Linked DNA regions of Homo sapiens: all the other regions are reported to be linked to region 1. Evidence: microRNA targets listed by miRTarBase, many of them from high-throughput screens and not tested one by one. Region 1 holds a microRNA gene; each other region holds the end of a gene's coding sequence.
Evidence for each region. Region 1 holds the annotated microRNA hsa-miR-4638-5p (ACUCGGCUGCGGUGGACAAGU, at 2,000-2,020, opposite strand). A microRNA usually pairs through its seed, bases 2 to 8, with sites in the 3' UTR of a target mRNA and lowers its output. Matches are read on the target gene's strand: a 7mer-m8 pairs with bases 2 to 8, a 7mer-A1 pairs with bases 2 to 7 and ends in A, and an 8mer does both.

Region 1 (4,000 bases):
AACACCAGTAACTCATGTGCTAGGATTGTACTAGCGACTCTGCCTATTTACAAACGTTGACCAACTTCTGCCCAGACCGCCCTCACAGACTATATAGCCCTCATAAGTCCCCGCTTTGATTTACGTCTGAGACAGAAGACGATGCTATCTTTTGCTCAGCGAGATTAAGCCAGCTTTCTATGATCAACAGACTTCTCTCGTGGTGTGGTGCGTATGCGGAGGAGACTTCGACAGCTTAAAAATACAAAACGGGGCCAGGCGCGGTGGCTCACGCCTGTCATCCCAGCACTTTGGGAGGCTGAGGCAGGAGGATCACGAGGTCAGGAGATCGAGACCGTCCTGCCAACATGGTGAAACCCCGTTTCTACTAAATACAAAAAATTAGCCGGGCGTGGTGGCGCGCCTGTAGTCTCAGCTATTCGGGAGGCTGAGGCAGGGGAATCACTTGAACCCGGGAGGCGGAGGTCGTAGTGAGCCGAGGTGGTGCCACTGCACTTCAGCCTGGAAACAGAGCAAGACTCCATCTTAAAAAAAAAAAAAAAAAAAGAAAGAAAGAAAGAGAAGAAAAAAAGAAAAAAGGCCTATATTTGCAGGACTAATTTCGAGGCCATCCTGGGCTCAAGCGATCCTCCCGCCTTGGCTTACCCAAAGTATTGGGATTACAGGCATAAGCCACCGCGGCGCATGGCCCGTTTTTATCTCTATTTATGTATGGGGGAAACGTGGAGGCTGGTATTTGTGGGGCAACATCTCACAAAAATAGACTCTTAAAGTCAAGAGCATAAAAAAGAATATACGGAAGACAAGTGTCTCATATGACACAAAGCATCTTTCTTGACAGGGAGTCGAAAGCAGGTCGTAGCGAGACAAAGGCGGAAGCCTAACCACTAAATCTCCCAGTAAAGTGGGAGTGAATCAGATAGGTTTTGACGCTCACGAACGCCTGGGGTCGTCCTGCGGTCTCACCCCAGTTTCGATAAACCACATTGTTCCCTCCAGCACAGCAAGTCTCACAGCAAGACGGGGGCAGGCCGTCTGGTAAACATAAAATGCCTAATATGTGCTGCCCGTGGGCGAGTGGCCTACAGCAAAGGGTCATGCATGCACGATAGCCCGCGGTGCTGGCCTGCAGGAATTGGTCCACAGGTACCCGCCTCTCATTCTTTCTTTGAGAGTTAGCGAGGGTGCAAACGTTGTGAGAATTCTGCTCGGGGCCTTCCACACACGGATCGGAGAACACCAGGTTAGTCCAAGTTCTAACACCCACTGTTGGTGAATCTGCTACCCACTAGGTCTTGGTACAGAGAATACCATTTGTGCACTTAGGTAACACAACTTGCCTTAACCTTTCCAAAAAGCGAAATTACGCCCAACGTGGGGCTCGAACCCACGACCCTGAGATTAAGAGTCTCATGCTCTACCGACTGAGCTAGCCGGGCGGCCATGTCTGTATTCTAACTTTGTCTCTGAAGATGGAGGTTACCCTCAGAGGTGTAAGCACGTTTCCACTGTGCAAATACTAAGAAGCGCCTGCGCCTGGCTCTGTTCTAGGCACTAGAGCCGAGGATCTGAAATCTACGGATTCCTGTACATGTGATGGCTGCATAGGCTTCAGAAGGGAAGAGCAAGAGATTAGGTGAGGGGCGAGACCTGAATTTACTTGAGTAGTGCTCTCCTTCAGTTTTGCCCCAGTCCGTGTTCCTCCGAAGCGCAGGGACACACATGTCCTTCCTGCCACGTAAGGCCGGCCTCGGGAGAGAATCTCCCGAACAGACCAAAACGTGTTTCCGCCCGGTTTCGAACCGGGGACCTTTCGCGTGTGAGGCGAACGTGATAACCACTACACTACGGAAACCACCTTGGCTACTTTCCTGCCGGCATCGTCCTGAAGACACACACGGCTGAGACGGCCGGGATAGCTCTAGGCAAGCGCCCTTGTAGGACAGGCCCGGGGACCCCTGCCGCGGCCGGCTGAGCGGTGTCCAGGTTCTGGAGCCGGACTTGTCCACCGCAGCCGAGTCCGCAGGTCCTGTAATGGCCTAGCATAGTTCACCCACGAGGGTTCGTGGTTTTTGGCGCGTTTGATCTGACATACTCAGAGGCCTGACCACCCCCCTAGGAAGCGCGACGTCCATCTGGAGTTTTCCCGCGAGCCGCCTTGAGAGCAGGGTAAGTTCTGCAGGCCCAGCCCTGGCGTCACGCTGTGTCTGGCACTCACTGGAGATTCTGTACATAAATCATGGCCCCGTCATTTTTCTCGCATCAAACAACATTTATTTATTTATGTATCGACATCAAATCTCTATAAAAATAAAATTTAAAGAGCTATTTAAGCATCAAGTATTATTTCTACCGCACAAAGCATCTATTTTTGCAGAGATGCTGTGAGAATGTAGATGTAATGATTCGTCACCACTTCTTCACTGCTGGGCAGTTAGGGAAGTTCATCTAAACCATGAGACAGTGTCCGGTTGGCAGTTTCTACCTCGGATGCGAAACGCCGACTACAGTTGGGGAAGGGTGGGGCGTCTGCTGCCCTAACCCGCGAAGCGCTTTCTCAGGCCCCGCCCCCGGTCCGACCCGGACGACCCTCTGAGTCCTCCACAACGAAGTCGTCTGCCTAGAAGGGCCGGAAGTACTTCAGGGCGCGCCGCGGACCCACCCCCTCGCTTCCGGCATCGGCTGTGGGGAGTACCGGCTGCAGTCGGCTGTGCCGGGAGGGTAGGATGGCGTCTGGCCGATGCGGTGATAGCACCGAAAGCAGACGGCCGCCAGGCGCTCCCCCTACCCCCCGAAGTTTCTCCCCAGCGGCGGGGGATGGGGGTAGGCGGTTCCTCTGTTCTTTCTGCGTTCCCCGCGGCCTCTTACCACAGAGACGCGGGCCTCCACCGTCCTAGCCCTCCCGCCCTGTTCTCTAGTGCGGACTAGAGCGTCTCCTCGCCATTTCCTGTCGCCCTGGGGCCCCGCGGGGAAAAAGGGGGAGTAGCAGGACAGCGGAGGGAAGTCGCGAGCTTAGGTGGTGTGTAGACGCCGGAAGTGTTGGGAAGGAGGCCGGAAGCTAGGGGCGGGGCCAGGAAGTGAGGAGGGGCGGGGGTTTATGAGGAGTCCAAGGGAGCATTGGGGCAGACTTGTACTCAGAGCCACCTGAGGGACTTGGCGGTGGCGCCCAGCACTGTCCCCTCCCCTCGTAGAGACACGGTTGTCGTTTGGGAGTAGGGAACACTGTGTTGGGGTGGGTTGTCGGCAGGACATCTCTCTGGCTGCTCTTGGGGCGAGGTGTGGAGGGGCAGGGCTGGGGGTGGAGCCGGGTCGCCAGGGCGTCGGTAGGGAAGACCCCCGCCCCTCGCCCCCCCACCGAACCTCTACACTGGCTGGCTGGACACTAAGATGGCTGCCGTTGCCATGACACCCAACCCTGTGCAGACCCTTCAGGAGGAGGCGGTGTGCGCCATCTGCCTCGATTACTTCACGGACCCCGTGTCCATCGGCTGCGGGCACAACTTCTGCCGAGTTTGTGTAACCCAGTTGTGGGGTGGGGAGGATGAGGAGGACAGAGATGAGTTAGATCGGGAGGAGGAGGAGGAGGACGGAGAGGAGGAGGAAGTGGAGGCTGTGGGGGCTGGCGCGGGGTGGGACACCCCCATGCGGGATGAAGACTACGAGGGTGACATGGAGGAGGAGGTCGAGGAGGAAGAAGAGGGTGTGTTCTGGACCAGTGGCATGAGCAGGTCCAGCTGGGACAACATGGACTATGTGTGGGAGGAGGAGGACGAGGAGGAAGACCTGGACTACTACTTGGGGGACATGGAGGAGGAGGACCTGAGGGGGGAGGATGAGGAGGACGAGGAGGAAGTGCTGGAGGAGGTTGAGGAAGAGGATCTAGACCCCGTCACCCCACTGCCCCCGCCTCCAGCCCCTCGGAGGTGCTTCACATGCCCTCAGTGCCGAAAGAGCTTTCCTCGGCGGAGCTTCCGCCCCAACCTGCAGCTGGCCAATATGG
Region 2 (4,243 bases), not on the chromosome of region 1:
CTACTAAAAATACAAAAATTAGCCAGATGTGGTGGCAGGCGCCTGTAATCCCAGCTACTCGGGAGGCTGAGGCAGAATGGCTTAAACCCAGGAGGTGGAGGTTGCAGTAAGCTGAGATCGCGTCACTGCACTCCAGCCTGGGTGATAGAGTGAGACTCTGTCTCCAAAATAATAATAATAATAGTAAGTAGTGAAATTGAGATTTTTTATCATTCTATTTTTCCAAACTTTCCAAATAGTCTACAAAGCTGTTTGTTAAGTAAAACCATTTAACATACCAAGAATTCTTGGAAAAGAATGTACACCTCAATTCTTTAACTTCCTTACATTTCTCAAAGGTCACCCATTTCATATTTTGCTGAAACTTGCTAGTTCCCACCAGCTAGAGCCTGTGTCCAGTCATGTTGTTCTACCTAACTTGGAGCAGCAAGGAGAGGGAGGAGCCTCCTTCCACCAGCAAGAACTCAGGTTGGGGTGGCAAATAGGCTTTCTCTTCCACAGCAATTTTTTCAGAAATTACATCTCAAACCTTTCAAAAACTAGACTGGCCTACAGAGCAGCCAATTAGTTTAAGTTTTAAGCCACATTATTGTCTGAGTATATTATTAAAAGTGCCAATTTTTAGATGGTTATATCAAATACAATAAAACACAGTCACAGAACTGCTTGGTGCAGTATATATAAGCCTGAATCATGAGAAAGTGATGTAAATCTGCCTTAGAATTCAAGCTTTTCAATTCTATCCCCGTTTTATATTTTCAATACTGTGATTAAACATTATACAAGATAATTAATTCTATTATCCTGGTTGCTTAACAATCTTTGGGATTGGCAGGTGTTTGGAGAAAGCTAATGTATCTCAATCGTTTGAGACTATGAATGTTGACAACAGGGATCCCAGCTATCATTGATTATGCTAGCATTTATTAGGGTGCCCGGTCATTACACTTATTCACTAACACAGCTGCAAAAATCCTACCAACAATACAAATGGCTCTGGGTTTTCTATAACCTGTGTCTGTTCTCTCATCAGTAAAATGGGAATAAAGCTGTTGGAGTTGCTGGGAGGACTAAAACAAATTTGGTGGAGTCAGGCACACAGCCAATCAAGTGTACTGTGGTTAAAATTAAATTTTTTTTTTTTTTTTGAGGAGTCTCACTGTCACTCAGGCTGGAGTGCAGTGGTGCAATCTCGGCTCAGTGCAACCTCTGCCTCACAGGTTCAAGCGATTCTTCTGCCTCATTCTCCTGATAGCTGGGATTACAGGTGCATGCCACCACTTCTGGCTAATTTTTGTTATTTTTAGTAGAGACGGGGTTTCACCATACTGGTCAGGCTGGTCTCGAACTCCTGACCTCCGGTGATCCACCTGCCTCAGCCTCCCAAAGTGCTGGGATTACAGGCGTGAGCCACCGCGCCTGGCGGTTAAATTCTTAAAAGGGAGTTCAACTGCCAGCTTTGCCACTTACTAGTTCTGTGACTCCTCTTCTGCAAAACACTAATTAAAAATTTTTTATACCAAGAACAAGTTAACTGGCAGTGGGGTACAGTAAAGGTGTTATGAAATCCCATTTTTTTTGCCTTTTACCTTAAGGGGTATTCTTATTTTTTAATTATTTTTTAGGCAGGGTCTTGCCAAGCTGCCCAGGGTGGTCTCCAACTCCTGTCCTCAAGTGATCCTCCTGCCTCAGCATCCCAAGTGTTGAGACTGGGACTATAGGGGTGAGCCACTGGGTCTGGCCTAAGAAAAGGTGTTTTTTTTTTGGAGACCGAGTCTCGCTCTGTCGCACAGGCGAGAGTACAGTGGCGCGATCTTGGCTTACTGCAACCTCTGCCTCCCGGGTTCAAGCAATCCTCTTGCCTCAGCCTCCCGAGTAACTGGGATTACAGACGCATACCACCACGCCCAGCTAGTTTTTTGTATTTTTAGTACAGACGGGGTTTCACCGTGCTAGACAGGATGGTCTCGATCTCCTGACCTCATGATCCGCCCGCCTTGGCCTCCCAAAGTACTGGGATTACAGGCATGAACCACGGCGTCCAGCCAGAAAAGCATGTTCTTATGTATAGCTAAGCGGTAACTCTCCTCTGCTTAAGTAGTTACATCATGCCAGTTAGTAGGTAAATTTTCCTCAACTGAGGAAAATAGTCAAAATTTACTGAACTCCCCAGGTACTTTCAGCTTCTGCATTCCATGATGGCTCAAGGTCTCTGCTCTCTACTCAGATTGGAATAAAGCTTGTTATGGCTTTAAGAGATGGTGTTGGCCGGGTGCAAGGGCTCACGCCTGTAATCTCAGCACTTTGGGAGGCCAAGGTGGGCGGATCACTTGAGATCAAGAGTTCAAGATGAACCTGGCCAATATGGCAAAACCCCATCTCTACTAAAAATACAAAAATTAGCCGGGTGTGGTGGTGGGCGCCTGTAATCCTCAGGAGGCTGAGGCAGAATTGCTTGAACCCAGGAGGTGGAGGTTGCAGTGAGCCGAAATCGAGCCAGTACGCTCCAGCCTGGGCAAGAGCAAGGCTCCATTTCAAAAAAAAAAAAAAAAAAAAAGGTTGTCAGCCAACAGGTTGGGCAGAAGAATGGCTCATGCCTGTAATCCTGGCACGCTGGGAGGCTGAGGCAGGCAGACTGCTTGAGCCCAGGAGTTTTGAGACCAGCCTAGGAACATGGTGAAACTGTTTCTCAAAAAACCAAAAATGAGCCAGGCATGGTGGTGCCTACCTGTAGTCCCAGCTACTTGGGAGGCTGAGGCAGAGAATCACTTGAGTCCAGGAGGTGGAGGTTGCAGCAAGCCAAGATTGCACTCCAGGCTGGGCAGCAGGAGTGAAACCTTGTCTGAGCTGGCAGAAACACTACATAGTTCCCAAGAAAAATGAGGTCTGTATTTTAACATTCTGGCCTGGATAATAAATCCAATGTAGATCAGAAACTATACCCTTGACCCAAGGTTTTATATATAGTAGCTCACTCATTTGTTAAATAAGGAGTTCTGAGCTCTCCAAGATACCATTTTTGAACTGAAGTGACCTAAAAGAACAGAGGGTTTAAAAACAATCTTAAAAAGGTTCCATTCCAAGGAACTAGAATACCAAGGTTTCTATCCTATGAAACTTGCTGACGTAAAGGAGATACCATAGTAAGGATCAAAGGGATATTAAAGTTTCAAATAGAAGGGCCATTCCTCCCAAACCACCCTGAAGTCTCAGCCCACAAAGAGAAGGACATTATGCTCCAATGCAGCGGTAGAGCTGTCACCAAAAAAATTCTGGCCATCAGTGACCACCAACTGTTTCTTCAGAAAAAGTAACCCACTGGCTGGGTGCTGCGGCTCGCACCTTAACACCAGCACTTTGGGAGGCCGAGGTGGGCAGATCACCTGAGGTCGGGAGTTTGAGACCAGCCTGACCAACATGGAGAAACCTCGTCTCTACTAAAATATACAAAATTAGCCAGGCATGGTGGCACATGCCTATAATCCCAGCTACTTGGGAGGCTGAGGCAGGAGAATCACTTGAACCTGGAAGGCAGAGGGTGCGGTGAGCCGAGATCCTGCCATTGTACTCCAGCCTAGGCAACAAGAGAGAAACTCCGTCTCAAAAAAACCAAACCAAACCAAAAACAAACAAACAACAAACAAAACAAGAAAAAGTAATCTGCTAAAAACTATAGGGTCCCCAAATACCATACAGAAACAAAATCTGTATACTAACACATTACAACAGAAAAAAAAAAAGTCATACATACAGCGTCTTTTCATTTTTATTACTCAAAAAAGTTTCATTTTTTTATTTAGCTTTCTGACTCTGTGCTTGTGCCTTCAACACTTTCACAACGATTTTCTGCTCCTCGATAAGGAAAGCACGCTTGATCCTAGAAAGGAAAATACCAAATTAATCATTTCTTTAAAATGAACTTCATTTTTTATTTAGCACAGAGAAGGCAAACATGGTAAAGAACCAAGCAAAGCAATCAGGGAACCCAGGAAACTACAGGATACACAAATACAGAGTAAAACTTAAAAGGTGAAATTCATTTAAAGCAGGATAATCCTTCAATTTCATGCCAGTAGTTATCTGTCCTCCTTCTGAGTCAAGATAAACTATGAAGTCATCCCCACAGGAGACCACTTATGAGAGCTCTAATTTATTGTTAGGATCCAGGAATAGTGGTATTTCTTGATTTGCAAAATGTCTTAGAATATTTTAACCATATTTTTGAAAATTCCCAGTAAAAAAC
Region 3 (4,243 bases), not on the chromosome of region 1:
TTCACAGAAGGCTTCTGACACTTGGTCATACTGAGGCATACTGAGGTTCATGCTGAGGCAGATTCTCTTTTTGGTGTTTAGAACTTTACCCACCCAAAGCTGTGCCATATTCAGGGGCTTTACTCCTAGAGCCAGTGAAGTTGAGAGCTATCTTGTATGCCTCTCCTTACTACATATCCTAAAGATCTGGAGAATTAAGTTTGGACATCAGAGAAGCATGTTTTTAACCAAGAAGCATGTTATTAACCAAGCACCACCCTTATGGTTTGAAAGAGCCAATGTTCCTCTCCAAGTACTGAATTTAACACAAGAGAATAATATGGCCAGGAAAATAAGTTTAAAGTGTCTTAACACTGTAGATAAAAAAAGTTATGATTCCCAGTCTAGAATTAAAGTGCTCTGACCATCTAGGGGAATGACTTTTACAAAGTTGGTAACCTAGGGAGTTTGATTTCTTTGTAAGGCATAGCCCACCTCTGTGATTTCTAGTATACCTTTGAACAGTGTAAAGTTCCTTCTTGGAAGAAAGGAGGCAGCAAATGTCATCACGTGCCTTGTTCTTGTTGAACAGCTATGGAGAACTGCTCAGAAAAGGAATCACATTCTAAAGGAGACTCCGGACACACCTTTGCCACTTCATTAAATTTCATTTTCTTTTCTCTTCCCACCAGGCTATTAGCTCCAGATTGTGAAATCATACAGGAAGTGGGAAAACTCTATCCACTGGAGATAGTATTTGGAATGAATGGAAGAATATGGGTTAAGGCAAAAACCATCCAGCAGACTTTAATTTTGGCAAACATTTTAGAAGCTTGTGAACACATGACGTCAGATCAAAGAAAACAGATCTTCTCCAGATTGGCAGAAAGTTGATATAGGTGGACTTTTTTACAGGTCAGTTGAGGCAAAAAACTATGGGTTTTTTCAGGTGAACCTCCCCCATTTAAATACTCAGAAGATAAGGTGTGAATGTATGTATTATTAGAGTCCGAAAGTATTTTTATAAGTTACTGGTTTTCACCCACGCTTTTGTGGGAGAGAAAATCATTGCAAAATCATTTTTTTTGTTCGGTACAATAAAGTTTACTAAAAAACAGTATTAGGGTTTATTTGGAGTTAACTCCCTTAGTAATTGCTACAGCTTCCATAATTAACTGGAGGTCAGCAGTAAAATAATTTTGTGATTATAACAGTAAGCCAGGTTCACCAGAGGAAATGTGGAATACCTAAGTATAAAGCAGCAAAGAAATGTCACCTGTAGTCCCATTATTCAGCGGGTGAGTATATAACAACGAAATACTTTTTCATTTACCAAGTATTGTGTTTTGCATGGATTAACTCCTTTATTCTAACTGCAGAAGACACTTATCCTCATAATTGAAACTGAGGCACAGAATTTAACTTGGCCTACATTCTCTATATTCATCAAATTGAAATTATAGTTATTATAGCTTATATGCCACTTTGTAATATACTTTTGTCTACTTCAAACAGCATGATACATTTCACAACTTTAGTCACATATTTCATGTTACAGGATATTTTTGAGTTTTATCATTATATAAATAACACTATGAGGATTTCTGAATCCAAATCTGGCCAAGTCTTATTTTGCTAAAATCATTTCCTAGGAGCTAAGCATAGAAAACTCTTCTATGCTATTTAGTATATTAACCAAAACCTTTAGAGGTAAAGAGACTGCCAGGTGATCCACATCAGTGATTCTTGGTTTCTAGACCTCTGAGAATATGTGAGATACAGATCCCCTGAAGCCTATCCATAGAAAGTCCTTTTTGGATCAAAGAGATTATAGAACTCTATTTGTTGATAAAGACCAAGGAGCTTCGTGTGTTTCTAATGTTTTCTAAGGACTGGATGGTTTTTAGTTCAATAGCTTTTAGGGGTACAAGTGGTTTTGGATTACACGGATGAATTGTATAGTGGTGAAGTCTGAGATTTTGGTGTACCAGTCACCTGAGTACTATATATTGTACCCAGTATGTAGTTTATCCTTCCCCCTTCCCTGTTCCGGGTCTCCAGTATCTGTTATACCACTCTGTGTGCTTACCTGTAGCTTAGCTCCCACTTAAAGTGGGAACATTTGGTATTTGGTTTTCCATTCCTGAGTTACTTCACTAAGAATAATAGCTTCCAATACTATCCAAGTTGCTGCAAAAGACATTTTTTATGGCTAATATTCCATGGGATATATATACCACACTTTATCCATTCATTGGTTGATGGGTACTTAGGTTGGTCCCATATCTTTTATTATGAACTGTCTAGCCAGTTTTTAAATAGAAAAGTACTGATTAGGTGAACAGTTCCTTAGGAATTAAATTGTGAAGGGGAGGGGACACAGCAGAGAAGTAATCTGTTGGTTCTTTTGAGATATTGAATACATGTCCCAAATTTGCTAGCTGCTTAACTAGCAAGTTAACCCAAACTGTCAGAGTAACTGAAGCAAATATGTCCAACTGGGACATAAGGAACATGAGATTTGTGTAATAAGTAGGTTATCTAACGTGTTCATGTGTCTAACACTTTCTAGCTATTTTCAAGACAGACTTAATCAATACTGTGTTTGCTTTCCAATTTAATCTGTTACAAATACATATGAAGAATCTAGTTGGTACAGGCTCAGGGAGGATAGAAAGATAGGTACACAGATTTGTCCTGTTAGGATCCTACCATTAGGAAGGATTAGGAAGAGAAGCCCTCCATGCCCATACTCTGCAAGGGAGAACAAGGTAAGAGCCACAGGAGGGAACAAAATGCTATGGGGACTCAGTAGGGATAGGTCAGAACAGGCTGGATCCTGCAAAGCTTATTACTGAGCTGGGCAACAACGAGCATGATCAGACAAGGCTGGAGAAAGTCATACAATTTTATGATGCCAGTTTAGTGAATATTAAACTCTTGATGTAACCATTTAAACAATTTCAAGAGGTCTCTCACAAATAGATGTACAAAAGTTGAATTAGCACGTCCAAAGCCATGTGGTTTTGAGGCTAATTCCTTGTTACATAATTTTTTTTTTTTTTCCCCTCGAGACAAGAGTCTGGCTCTGTCGCCCAGGCTGGATCTTGGCTCACTACAACCTCCGCCGCCCGGGTTCAGGCGATTCTCCTGCCTCAGCCTCCTGAGTAGCTGAGACTACAGGCACGCACCACCATGCCCAGCTAATTTTTGTATTTTTAGTAGAGACGAGGTTTCACCATATTAGCCAGGCTGGTCTGGAACTCCTGACCTTGTAATCCACTCACCTCAGCCTCCCAAAGTGCTGGGATTACAGGCGTGAGCCACTGCACCCACCACATTAACTTTTTATTACTTAACATATCTGAGCACTTCCTGTGAGCCAGGCACTATGGGAGATTAAAAAGCATTAAATGTGGTCCCTGACATTATTGTGAAGCTCTGAGAAGATGTCATGCAAAGACACTTGCCTATGTGCCACTGCCACCCTCTGCCCTGCTCTTTGGGTCAAGGTACCTCCAAGCGCCTCACTCCTGCAGCTGCATTTTTTTTTATTTATTTTTTTTTTGAGATGGAGTCTTGCTCTGTCACCCAGGCTGGAGTGCACTGGTGAAATCTCGGCTCACTGCAACCTTCGCCTCCCGAGTTCAAGTGATTCTCCTGCCTCAGCCTCCCAAGTAGCTGGGACTACAGGTATGCGCCACCACACCTGGCTAATTTTTGTATTTTCAGTAGAGAAGGGTTTCACCATGTTGGCCAGGCTGGTCGTGAACTCCTGACCTCAGGTGATCTGCCCACTTCGGTCTACCAAAGTGTTGGCATTACGGCGTGAGCACCTGGCCACGCAGCTGCAATCTTAGGCCCATCATTCCACTGAGTTCCGAAGAATATAGCCTTTTCCTGAAGAAACTCCTTTCTTCAATGCTTCAGGCCAGTTGTGAGTCTCTAAGTAAGTGGACAGGATATCAAACACTGTTAGAGAGTAAACAGAAAACACAGTGACCACAGAGGGAAAAAAAGAACGAGTAAATGAAAAGGATGTTCTGTAATATTTCGTTCAACAAACCTATTCTGCACCATATGTGGTACTAAGGTCTTGCGGGGAGAGGCAAGGACACAGGCTCTGCTTGCTCTCAAGGACCTCAGCCTACCCTGAAAGATACAGGCCTATGAATGGATAGGGTGCAACAGAAAGGAACACAGTAAAATGGGAAACAGAAGGGCTCTGCTGTGGCCTGGGATGGGGAAGGGCCAAGATGCTCCT

Region 2: miRTarBase lists RPL34 as a target of hsa-miR-4638-5p. The part of its 3' UTR that is shown has no 7-base or 8-base seed match.
Region 3: miRTarBase lists TRMT10B as a target of hsa-miR-4638-5p. Seed matches in the 3' UTR shown: 8mer at 3,595-3,602.

The regions. Positions count from the first base shown.
Region 1 is chr5:181,220,613-181,224,612 of GRCh38, forward strand. It overlaps MIR4638 (microRNA 4638), which reads right to left and starts at 2,021; the gene lies at 1,954-2,021. It overlaps TRIM41 (tripartite motif containing 41), which reads left to right and starts at 2,669. Exons shown (of 6, transcript NM_033549.5): 1 at 2,669-4,000. The coding sequence starts at 3,388. It overlaps TRK-CTT2-3 (tRNA-Lys (anticodon CTT) 2-3), which reads right to left and starts at 1,439; the gene lies at 1,367-1,439. It overlaps TRV-CAC1-5 (tRNA-Val (anticodon CAC) 1-5), which reads right to left and starts at 1,855; the gene lies at 1,783-1,855. RefSeq lists silencers at 1,248-1,457, 1,708-1,937, 3,208-3,417 and enhancers at 2,668-2,897, 3,565-4,000.
Region 2 is chr4:108,624,762-108,629,004 of GRCh38, reverse strand. It overlaps RPL34 (ribosomal protein L34), which reads right to left. Exons shown (of 5, transcript NM_001319236.2): 5 at 3,635-3,877. The coding sequence ends at 3,793. Among named protein-coding and RNA genes, the nearest start is that of RPL34, 6.3 kb to the right of the region's middle.
Region 3 is chr9:37,777,309-37,781,551 of GRCh38, reverse strand. It overlaps TRMT10B (tRNA methyltransferase 10B), which reads right to left. Exons shown (of 9, transcript NM_144964.4): 9 at 2,580-3,951. The coding sequence ends at 3,845. It overlaps EXOSC3 (exosome component 3), which reads left to right. Exons shown (of 4, transcript NM_016042.4): 4 at 672-1,838. The coding sequence ends at 873. Among named protein-coding and RNA genes, the nearest start is that of EXOSC3, 5.6 kb to the left of the region's middle.